2 separate regions of the Homo sapiens genome follow, and region 2 is linked to region 1. The links come from fine-mapping of genetic effects on gene expression. A gene starts in region 1. The other region holds a variant in brackets. All regions are shown on one strand. Distances are between the middles of the regions.

Evidence for each region. PIP is the estimated chance that this variant, and not a neighbour inherited with it, causes the effect.
Region 2: its variant is fine-mapped to the expression of ZNF638 in whole blood (INTERVAL, PIP above 0.99).

Annotation. Positions count from the first base shown.
Region 1 is chr2:71,329,603-71,334,983 of GRCh38, forward strand. It overlaps ZNF638 (zinc finger protein 638), which reads left to right and starts at 2,180. Exons shown (of 28, transcript NM_014497.5): 1 at 2,180-2,273. RefSeq lists enhancers at 1,773-2,460, 2,461-3,146 and a silencer at 1,980-2,189.
Region 2 is chr2:71,366,888-71,372,268 of GRCh38, forward strand. ZNF638 (zinc finger protein 638) reads left to right here. Exons shown (of 28, transcript NM_014497.5): 7 at 1,495-1,641; 8 at 2,996-3,118. Among named protein-coding and RNA genes, the nearest start is that of ZNF638, 38 kb to the left of the region's middle. The variant CA/C (reference allele first, on the strand shown) is at 2,435.

The DNA of each region.
Region 1 (5,381 bases):
ATTGTGGAAGAGAGAGAAATTCTTATCCAACTAAATATCATAAAGTATCAAGAGAAAATTAGAGAAGAACAACTCTCAGAAAAAGCACCAAACAAGATATTTCAAAGGTGAATTATTTCAAACTTTAAAGAACAGGTAAGTCCAATGATATTTAAAGTATTTCAGGTTTGAGAAAGAAGTGAGTTTGTAGGGAAATGGTTATTTTCTTTTTTTTTTTTTTTTTTTTTGAGACAGAGTCTGACTCTGTCACCCAGGCTGGAGTGCAGTGGCGTGATCTCGGCTCACTGCAACCTCTGCCTCCTGGGTTCAAGTGATTCTCCTGCCTCAGCCTCCCGAGTAGCTGGGATTACAGGCGTGCACCACCACAGCCAGCTAATTTTTATATTTTTAGTAGAGATTGGGTTTCACCATGTTGGTCAGGCTGGTCTTGAACTCCTAACCTTGTGATTCACCTGCCTCAGCCTCCCAAAGTGCTGGGATTACAGGCATGAGCCACCTTGCCCTGCCTATTTTCTTACATATTTAGTGGAAGTGACACTTTGTAGAAACTTTTTGGGAAGTTTTTCTACAACACCTATTAAAATTAAATGTATGTACACACATATACATTTAATCTAGCATTCCCACTATGATGATTCTAGCCTTTAGAAATTAAAGCATAATTTGGTAAGTCTTTGTATACAGCAGTGTTTGCAGTAGCAAAAAGACTGGAAACAACTTCAGTGTTCAACAACAGGCTGAATAATTGCTGAGGCAGCTATACTATGAATATTATACAATTATTTAAAAAAGGATTATATGGTTTACTTGGAGAAATGTCAGTAATCAGAAAAGCAAATAGCTAATGTGTGAAAAAAGAAAACATTTCCTGTTACATGCAAATAATGTGTTTGTATGAATATAAAGAAATGTATGGAAGGAAACTTATCAAATGTTAACATGGGTTATTTGGTGTTTAGGGGGAGCTTGTTGGCTTTTTCTTTGTTGTTTTTGATTTGTTGTCCCTAGCAGGATTTTTGGTTTGAAATGAAAATCCGATAAGATATCTTTTTAAAACGACTTTTCTTTTTAGTCTTTCAAATGCTTGTTTTAATGTGAATAAAAGAAATGCATTTGCTTGAGTGCTAGGTAAAACCGATGTGTGAGACTCAGGGTGGGTGGTGTGATTTGTGTGGTATGCATACGGCAGGGCTTGTAGCTTTACCAGATTTTGAACAATGACTGGGTTTTCATATTGGTGTAGTACAGCCACCTCGAGAAGATAAAACATTGCATAACACAGTTCTTTAACGTCTGTCATCCCAAGGTTTTCCATGGGTAAAATGGAGATTACAAATATCTACCACACAGATAGGGCTTTTTATTGTGAAATGACAAAAGGATTTTCAGAGTGTTAAAGTTTTAGCTGAATAGCTTTGGTTGAATTCTACTTTACAGTTTTGAGTAGCTATGACACACATCATTGCCATAGGGATCAAAAGGTGCAAGGTGACAGGATAAAAGCAGGCAAAATCTTGACCATACAAAGCATTATATTAACGTGCTAGGCGCGAATATAACCTGTTATAATATAATGTTGTTATTATTATTTGAGATGGAGTCTCACTCTGTTGCCCAGGCTGGAGTGCAGTGGTGCAATCTTCCCTCACTGCAACCTCCGCCTCCCGGGTTCAAGCAATTCACCTGCCTCAGCACCCCCTAGTAGCTGGGACTACAGGCGCGCGCCACCGGCTATTTTTTGTGTTTTTAGTAACGGGGTTTCACCCTGTTGGCCGGGCTGGTCTCGAACTCCTGACCTCAGATGATCCACCCACCTCGGTCTCCCAAAGTGCTGGGATTACAGGCGTGAACCACCGCGCCTGGCCATATAATGTTATTATTGAAGGCACAAATGATCAGGGAAGACTTCATGAAGGAGGTGAGACAATATAGGTCTTAAAAGGATGAGCGGTTTGGAGAGGACAGGCACAGAACCAGCAAAAGAGTGAAGACGGCGCTGGAGTTTTTTTTTTTTTTTGCCGCACGCCTTCGCCGCCACCACGCGGGAGCGCCCCTTCCGGGAGCCCGCTCCGCCCGGCTCTTCTCGGGCTTCGGGCGAGCGCGGTGCCAGCGGTACGCAGGCGCCGGGAGCCTACGAGGGCTCGCAGGAGCTGGGAGGCGCGCATGCGTGCAGCTCTTTGGAGGCGGTAGCGTTTTCGGCGTCGAGACTGGAGGCTGAGTGCTAAACTGTGTGGGGCGCGGATGGGATCCAGCTGTTAGTCGGGTAGGCATAGGTAGGACCGCTGCCCTGTGGGGAGTAGGGGGTTGGAAGGCGGAGGCCGGTATCGTGGGGGTCCTGAGCCCTTCCTGTGAGATCCGGGCCGACTATTGTATCTGTGTCGCAGCGGCTCCGCACAAAATGGCGGCGGGCAGACGGCGGGGGCGGGAGGAGGTTGGGGGACCCCCGGGATGGGAAGGGAAGCTGTGCTGTGCTGCCCTGCTCCGTCGTTTATTCACTTCGCTACCCGGGAGGGCCCGTCCGGGTACTCGTGAAGGACCCTGCCTCGAGAAGAGCTGCCTGACGCCGTTGCACTGGGCCGAGGATCGTGAAGAGCCCTTTGGCGAGGCCGAGGCGGCCCCTTCCCCAGCAGCGCCCGGCCTGCCGAGGCTGCGCTGGGCCTGACAGCCGAGGAAGCGGTGGTGAGGGAATGCCGAGCAGGGAGGAAGCGTTCCCGTCGGGCCCGAAGAGGCGGTGGAGTTTGAGCCGAGCCCTCTGACCAGCGACATTGTGCAAGAAGCGTGGAGAGAAGAGCGTGTTTGTGTTTGGGGTTGGGGAGGGGGTGTCGGGATGAAGGAGGGAATGTTAGGATCCAGCGGCTTTTCCGGGCTGGTGTTCTGTGCTGCGTAGTGCAGGTATGAAACCAAAGAAAATATCACCTCTGTGGGAGACTGAGGACTCATAAATGGTTGTGATACCTAACAGTATTTCCAAATTTCTCAGAGGAATTGTGAAAACAGAACGTTAGTGAATTGTTTTTGTGTGATTCTTAGCTTGGGCCCCGTTCTCTTAAAGGAAGGGGGAATGTATATATCACAGACTGGAATCCTTGAGAACGTTTGAAATAGATCTTTTGTTGTTTGAGGTAATTGTTAATGAGGGATACTTCAGTATTACAAAATCATGGATTGAGCTATAGAGTGAAGGCTACCTGAAGCTAATTTTTCTTAATCTTAAAATTTGTCCTTAGGCGAAGTTTGGGGCCAGGACCAGAAATTGTAGTAGTTTAAAGGAGTCCCGATGAAAAACTTGTCACCAGGATCCAGCGATTTATGTTCAAGTACTTTTTCCAACGAGCTCTGGAATTTTGCACAAAAAATTTTCTGCTTTTTCCCCTCATTTGTTGTAAAGGATTATTTTTTCAGGGATGTTGTGCTTGCTGGTTCAGATTTACAATTAAAAATTGATAACCTGGAGAAAAGGATTGACCAAAAAAAGGTGAATTTAAGGAAGTTTTCGGAGAAAAACAAACATGTAAATGACATTCAAATAGCTTTAAATTTTGTTAATGATTAGACATTTGAGACTTAGTGGACTTATGTTGCTGTCTTTTAAAAAAGTTTGACAGCATTTTATATTTTATTTTGTACTCCATATTCTGTAATATGTACTTCTAAATAATTACAGGGCGTCCCAGCATGTTATACATTAAAATATGCTGGGCCATTCCTTCCTTGGGGATTTATTTGTCTTGGAACCAAGAAAGGGTAAATATAACAGTTGGAAGAAATCACAAAATCTTATTCGTTTTTATTAACTAGTTTTCATAATGTGTTTATGGTCACATATTTATTGTATATTGGTTGTATTTGTTTTGTAATCCTTTTTTGCATTTTGTTTTGGAGGGTGTATACGGCAGGTACTCTAGGTTAAAAAGGTTTAGGTACTGTAGTTTAAAAAAGTCATCACTTTGTACTTGACTATCTTAGGGTTTTTCTTGGGTGCTCTTAAGTAGGTGATCTCCGGAAATTTTGTTTTTATGTAAGTGGAAGAAAATGAGACAAGTAGTTTAGTGGAAAGAGAATAGGCTTTGCAGTCGGAAGATCTGGATTCACATCTCCCTTTTCCTCAGTATGTGTGAGACTTTGGTAAATTATTTTAGTCTTTCTTGAGCTTTTGTTTCCTTATCTCTAAAATGGTGACATTATTACTTCCTGCTTGGGATTTTTGTGAGTGACTGTTAAGTGAGACAGTGTATGGAAAGCTCGTATTCCTTGGCACATACTAGGTGCTTAATGTTAGCTGTTACTTGTATTTCAAAATTGAAGTGCTTAGGCAGCATTGTTTGATAGAAAATTATAATCTGTGGGTATTCTCTTCTAATTAAACGGCTTAAAAGGATTTAGAGTAATAGAATTTTGGAGTTGAAAGGCCCTCTAATCTAACTTTCATTAAAATATTTTGTGCTTCTATAAACTTTTTACATGCCTTTCTTGTAGAACTTATCAATATATATTGTAACCATTTATATGATTGTTACGTTAGTCTTTGTATCTTTCCCAGTGCCTGGTATGTATTAGATGCTCAGATGTTGAGTGAATGAACTCAGCTGGTAGTCACCAGAGCCTGGACTCTAAATCATGCTCTTTCCACTGTACCTTAATGTATACTGATTAAGGTTTGGACTAAATTTGTCCAAATCCTTAATAAAATGCCTTATATACTTAGAAACAGTACTTCCAGTATTGGTACCCAGTAACATAGCTTGGGCTGTTTTGCAAGGAAACAGGCGCTAATGAATGCTGCCATGTAGTGGTTTTAGAGACTCTCCAAATTGAAAGTAATTATGTTTGTGGCTAAAGCTAATAAGCCCTCATGTGTATCCAGCTTATCTACTCTTAATTGCTTTAACTTTGTTTAGTGTTTTGAAATTTGTGATGGAAAATTAAAATGGAAGGAAAATAAGTATATAGAAGATGAGAAGAGAATAATGGAAAGGAAAAAGAGTGAGGAAAAGGTGAGATGTAGAAATAAAACACACAACTGTAATAATGCGGGTGAGGGCCGGGTGCGGTGGCTCATGCCTGTAATCCCAGCACTTTGGGAGGCGAGGTGGGCGGATCAGGTCAGGAGATCTAGACCATCCTGGCTAACACGGTGAATCCCCATCTCTACTAAAAATAGAAAAAAAATTAGCCGGGCGTGGTGGCGGGCGCCTGTAGTCCCAGCGACTCGGGAGGCTGAGGCAGGAGAATGGCGTGAACCCGGGAGGTGGAGGTTGCAGTGAGCCGAGATTGCGCCACTGCACTCCAGCCTGGGCGACAGAGCTAGACTCCGTCTCCAAAAAAAAAAACAAAAAAAACTCCGGTGAGGGTTAAGAATAATAAGGGTTTTGGTTTGAAAA
Region 2 (5,381 bases), 37 kb after region 1:
ATATTAAAACATCAAGAGACTATCTTCAGAGAAAATCCTAATAGGCCCAATATCAAATATTTTGTATATTTTAATATTAATAAGTCTTCAAGTATTTAGGTATGGAATGCATTGCTCTCAACAGTATTTAAATACATGAAAGACTTTCAGTAAGTGCTGTTCCCTGCCCCAAAGAACTTACATTTAGAAGGATAAACTTCTGATAATCAACCAGTAATTAACAGAATTTTGAAGAGCATTGGGAAGAAATTTTTGAGTATAGGGAAAATTTTGAAGAGGCTGAGTTAGTCTCATAATATGAAGTTCTTTTCATTTTGTTTCAAGACTTCTAGGTGGTGGCAGTGGAACTTTTTTTTTTTTAAGTTTTCTTATTTAGTAAAAAATAAGAGAAATGGGGGTCTCGCTTTCTCACCCAGGCTGGAGTGTAGTGGCACAGTCATAGCTCACTGCAGCCTCAAGTTCCTGAGCTCAAGTATCCTCCTGCCTCAGGCTCCCAGGTAGAAGACTACAGGTATGCGCCAACACACCCAGCTGGGTGTTTTAATTTTTTTTTTTTTTTTTTTTGAATCAGAGTCTCGCTCTGTCACCCAGGCTGGAGTGCAGTGGCGTGATCTTGGCTCACACAACCTCCGCCTCCCAGGTTCAAGTGATTCTCCTGCCTCCTGCCTTAGCCTCCTGAGCAGCTGGGATTATAGGCGTGTGCCACCACGCCTGGCTAATTTTTTTTATTTTTAGCAGAGACGGGGTTTCACCGTGTTGGTCAGGCTGGTCTCGAACACCTGACCTTGTGATCTATCCACCTTGGTCTCCCAAAGTGCTGGGATTACAGGCGTGAGCCACCAGGCCTGGCCTTTTTTTTTTTTTAAAAATATAGAGTCTTAGTATGTTGCCCATCCTGGTCTTAAACTCCTGGCCTCAAGCGATCTTTCTGCCTTGGCCTCCCAAAGCAGTGGGATACAGGCATGAGCCACCATGCCTGGCTGTAATTTTTAACGTAAGCGGTAAAGTTGATACTACAGTGTATTCAAATGGTATGCATTATATATGAATTTTTAAAAATATTATACCTGTCTAGAGATCATTTCCAATTATTAGAACAGAGGGGGTAAGCAAAGCTGTAATTTCAGCTTTACTTGTTGGTGGGCCATGTAGTTTCATAGAAAAATTCTCTCTAATGGCCTTGGAACATTCCATAGATCTTATTTGCTATAAGATGCTATCAACAGAAAAGAGCACCTGTAAACCATTTCTGGGTTAAAAAATATAAATAACATTTCTTACCACTTTTGCATTTAAAATCTTATTAAAGTGTTAAAATCGTGATTTAAAAATGCGTAAAGGAGGTGGTGAAGGAAAAAGAAAAATGGGTAAAAAATATGGAAAAGACCCTTTAGTGTACTAATATTAGTGGTAGAAGAAATTATATAGGAAATTATTACTGTACATTGTAGCTTAATTTGGTTTATTTTAAATTTTCTTTCACTCCAAAAATAGCTTCGGAAAGAACAGTCATTGCATTATGGTTCGGTTCTTCTTATAACTGAATTACCAGAGGATGGTTGTACTGAAGAAGATGTGAGAAAATTATTTCAACCATTTGGGAAAGTGAATGATGTCCTAATTGTTCCATATAGAAAAGAGGTGAGTCATTTAGTCTGTGGCAAAAATTCATACAAAGTGATTGCTTTAATGATTCTATAAATTGCTGTTGTGTTCCTTAGCTGCTTGTACTGCATATATAATTGTTCTTTGAGAGTTATATAAATGTCTGGATGTGAATAAGCAAGGCCGCAAAATAATGTTTTATATCCTTTAAAATAAGTGTTTGCCCACTTTTTCTGTAAAGGGCCAGCTAAATATTTTTGGTTTTATAAGCCATCTGTAGGATCTCAACTACTGTGCTCTGGCATTCTAGTACAAAAACAGCTATAAGTAATATGTAAATGCGCAAGCATGGCTGTGTCCAAAAAACTATTTACAAAAATAGGTAGTATGCCATAGTTTGCCAGTCATTACTTTAGAACACCAGTTAGATAATACTAAAACAAATTATTTCCTTTGTATGGTTAAGTATTTTCTGTGGGTTATATTCCTATAACTCACATGATAAAGTTAAGAACTGTGAACAGTTCTTCACATAAGCACAACATAAAATAGTTAGTTAAGGCTGGGCGTGTTGGCTTGTGCCTGTAATCGCAGCACTTTGGGAGGCTGAGGCAGGTGGATCGCCTGAGATCAGGAGTTTGAGACCAGCCCGACCAACATGGTGAAACCCCGTGTCTACTAAGAATACAAAAATTAGCCAGACATCTGTAATCCCACCTACGTGGGAGGTTGAGGCAGGAGAATCTCTTGAACCCGGGAGGCAGAGGTTGCAGTGACTAGAGATGGCGCCGCTGCACTCTAGCCTGGGCAACAGAGTAAGGCTCCGTCT[CA/C]AAAAAAAAAAAAAAAAAAAGTTTTGTGAGTTAAGGCTGGGTGTGGTGGCTGAAGTCTGTAATCCCAGTACTTTGGGAGGCCAAGGCTGGAGGATCGCTTGAGGCCAGGAGTTCAAGACCAGCCTGGGCAACATAGCAAGACCTCTGTCTTAATTTTTTTAAAAAGTTTGTGAGTCAGGACAGGGAACATAGTGATAGTGTTGTCTTTGTTGCAAGAAGCCTTTAAAATGTCAGACCTACCACAAGCTGGACCATATCTTCCCTTCCCTCCTGTTGTTCAGTGAGCCCTGCCTTCTCATTTCCTCTTCTTCCATGAGCCTGCCTGGATTTTTTTTTATCTTGGTAGTGGTATAGAAATTATGTAAGGTTAAATGTCCATTTAATGTGTGAAACATCCTTAATCAAATTATACTTGACCAAAATAAAAACAGGCAAAAGCAACCATGACTTGAGGTAGTTTCATAGTTTGATGTTACAAAAGAAAGGATTAAGCCCATTTTAAAATGCAGGAACTTTTAAAGATAGATTTGTGACTAAAGATGGAATAAATTTCATTTTAGGCTTACCTAGAAATGGAATTTAAAGAGGCAATTACTGCAATTATGAAGTACATTGAAACAACACCTCTTACGATAAAAGGAAAAAGTGTGAAAATATGTGTTCCAGGAAAGAAAAAAGCACAGGTAATCTGGATTTAGGTCTTAAATGTTTTATCACTGTTGTTTTAGTTTAACTTTTTTGTTTAAGTATGGCACACATATAGAAATAGGCATAGAAACATAAATGTTAGCTCAACACATTATATGTGCATTAATTCAAGTATGTTGAAATTAAAACTTCCTCATACATGTATGGTGCTATATACAGTATTAAATAACGACGACTAGGAGAAAATACTTGCCATATATAACACAAAAATAGCAAACATCTGTGAATCTGGTACCTAGGTCACAAAAGAGAACATTTGACAGTATCTGGAAGTCCCTTGCTTGCTTCTTCCCAATTCTTACACCCTCCCTTCTTCTCACAAGTAAACACTAACTTGATTTCTAATGCCATAGTTGAGTTTTGCCTGTTTTCAACTTTACATAAACAAAATCGTATAGTGTACATTCTTTGGGCCTTTACTTCCTTAGAAGTATCAAGTTTTGTAACTTTAATTTTTCTAGATCATTTCTGTGCTTCAGTTCATATGATCGTAGATAATATCTATAGAATTACTTTAAATTACCCTTTAAGGATGAGCTTTCTGTTAAGTAAAAAGCTATATGTATATCTCACCTGTAAGGTTTTCTTTGTGTATGTGTGTGTTTTTTAAAATAGGGTGTTGAGAAAATATTTTTATATCTTAAAAAAAATTATTGTATTTTTAATTTTTGTGGGTACATAGTAGGTATATATATTTATGAGGTACATGAGATGTTTAGATGCAGGCATGCAGTGTGTAATAATCACATTATGGAAAATGGGATATCTGTCCCCTCCAACATTTATTCTTTGTGTATCAAATAATCCAGTTATACTCTTATAATTGTTTAAAAATGTAACATTAAATTATTTTTTACTATAGTCACTCTGTTGCGCTAGCTAATACTGGGTCTTACTCATTCTGTTTTTTTTTGGTACCCATTAATTATCCCCTCCTCTACCCCCTGTTACCCTTCCCAGCCTCATAACCATCCTTCGACTTTCTGTCTCCATGAGTTCAGTTGTTTTAGAGCCCACAAATTGTGGGATTTTTTAGATACCACAAATAAGTGGGAACATGTGATCTTTGTCTTTCTGTGCCTGGCTTATTTCACTTAATATAATGACTTCCAGTTTCATCCATGTTATTTTAAATAACTGAATCTCATTCATTTTTATGGCTGAAGAGTACTCCATTGTGTTATGTACCACATTTTCTTTATCTATTCATGTGTTGATGGACACTTAGTTTGCTTCCAGATCTTAGCTAATGTGAACAGTGCTGCAAGAAACATGGGAGTACAGATACCTCTTCAATATACTGATTTCTTTTCTTTTGGGTATATATACCCAGCAGTGGGATTGCTGGATTGTATGGTTGATCCTATTTTTAGTTTCTTAGGACCCTTCAAAATGTTCTCCATAGTGATCGTACTAATTTACGTTCCCACCAACAATATACTGAGGGTTCCCTTTTCTCCACATCCTGGCCAGCATTTGTTTTTGCCTGTCTTTTGGATAAAAGCCATTTTAACCGGGGTAAGATGGTATCTCATTGTAGTTTTGATTTGCATTTCTGTGATGATCAGTGATGTTGAGTACCTTTTCGTGTGCCTTTTTGCCATTTATGTGTTGTCTTTTGAGAAATGTTTCTTCAGATCTTTTGCCCATTTTTTTTTTATCAGAGTATTAGTTTTTTTTTTTCCTGTAAAGTGGCTTGAGTTCCTTATATATTCTGGTTATTAATCCCTTGTCAGATTTTTTTCCTGTAAAGTGGCTTGAGTTCCTTATATATTCTGGTTATTAATCCCTTGTCAGATGGATAGTTTGCAATTATTTTCTCTCATTTTGTGGGTTGTCTGTTGTTTCCTTTGCTCTGCAGAAGCTTTTTAACTTGAAGTGGTCCCATTTGTTCATTTTTGTACAGCATTTGCCTGTGTTTGTGGGGTATTACTGAAGAAATATTTGCCCAGACTGATGTCCTGGAGAGAGAGTTCCTCCAGTGTTTTCTTGTAGTAGTTTCATAGTTAGAGATCTTAGATAAAAGTCTTTAATCTATTTTTATTTGATTTTTGTATATGGTGAGAGATAGGGTTCAGGTTCATTAATGCATATGGATATCCAGTTTTCCCAGCTGGTACCTCCCTAGGTTACATGCCATCCCAGCCCACTAGCTCTAATCCCAGCCCCAGCCCTAAGAGTTGCCTAGGAGTTGTTGTCCTTGTGTCCTAGACTACCTTTCAGGTTTACCTAGCACCC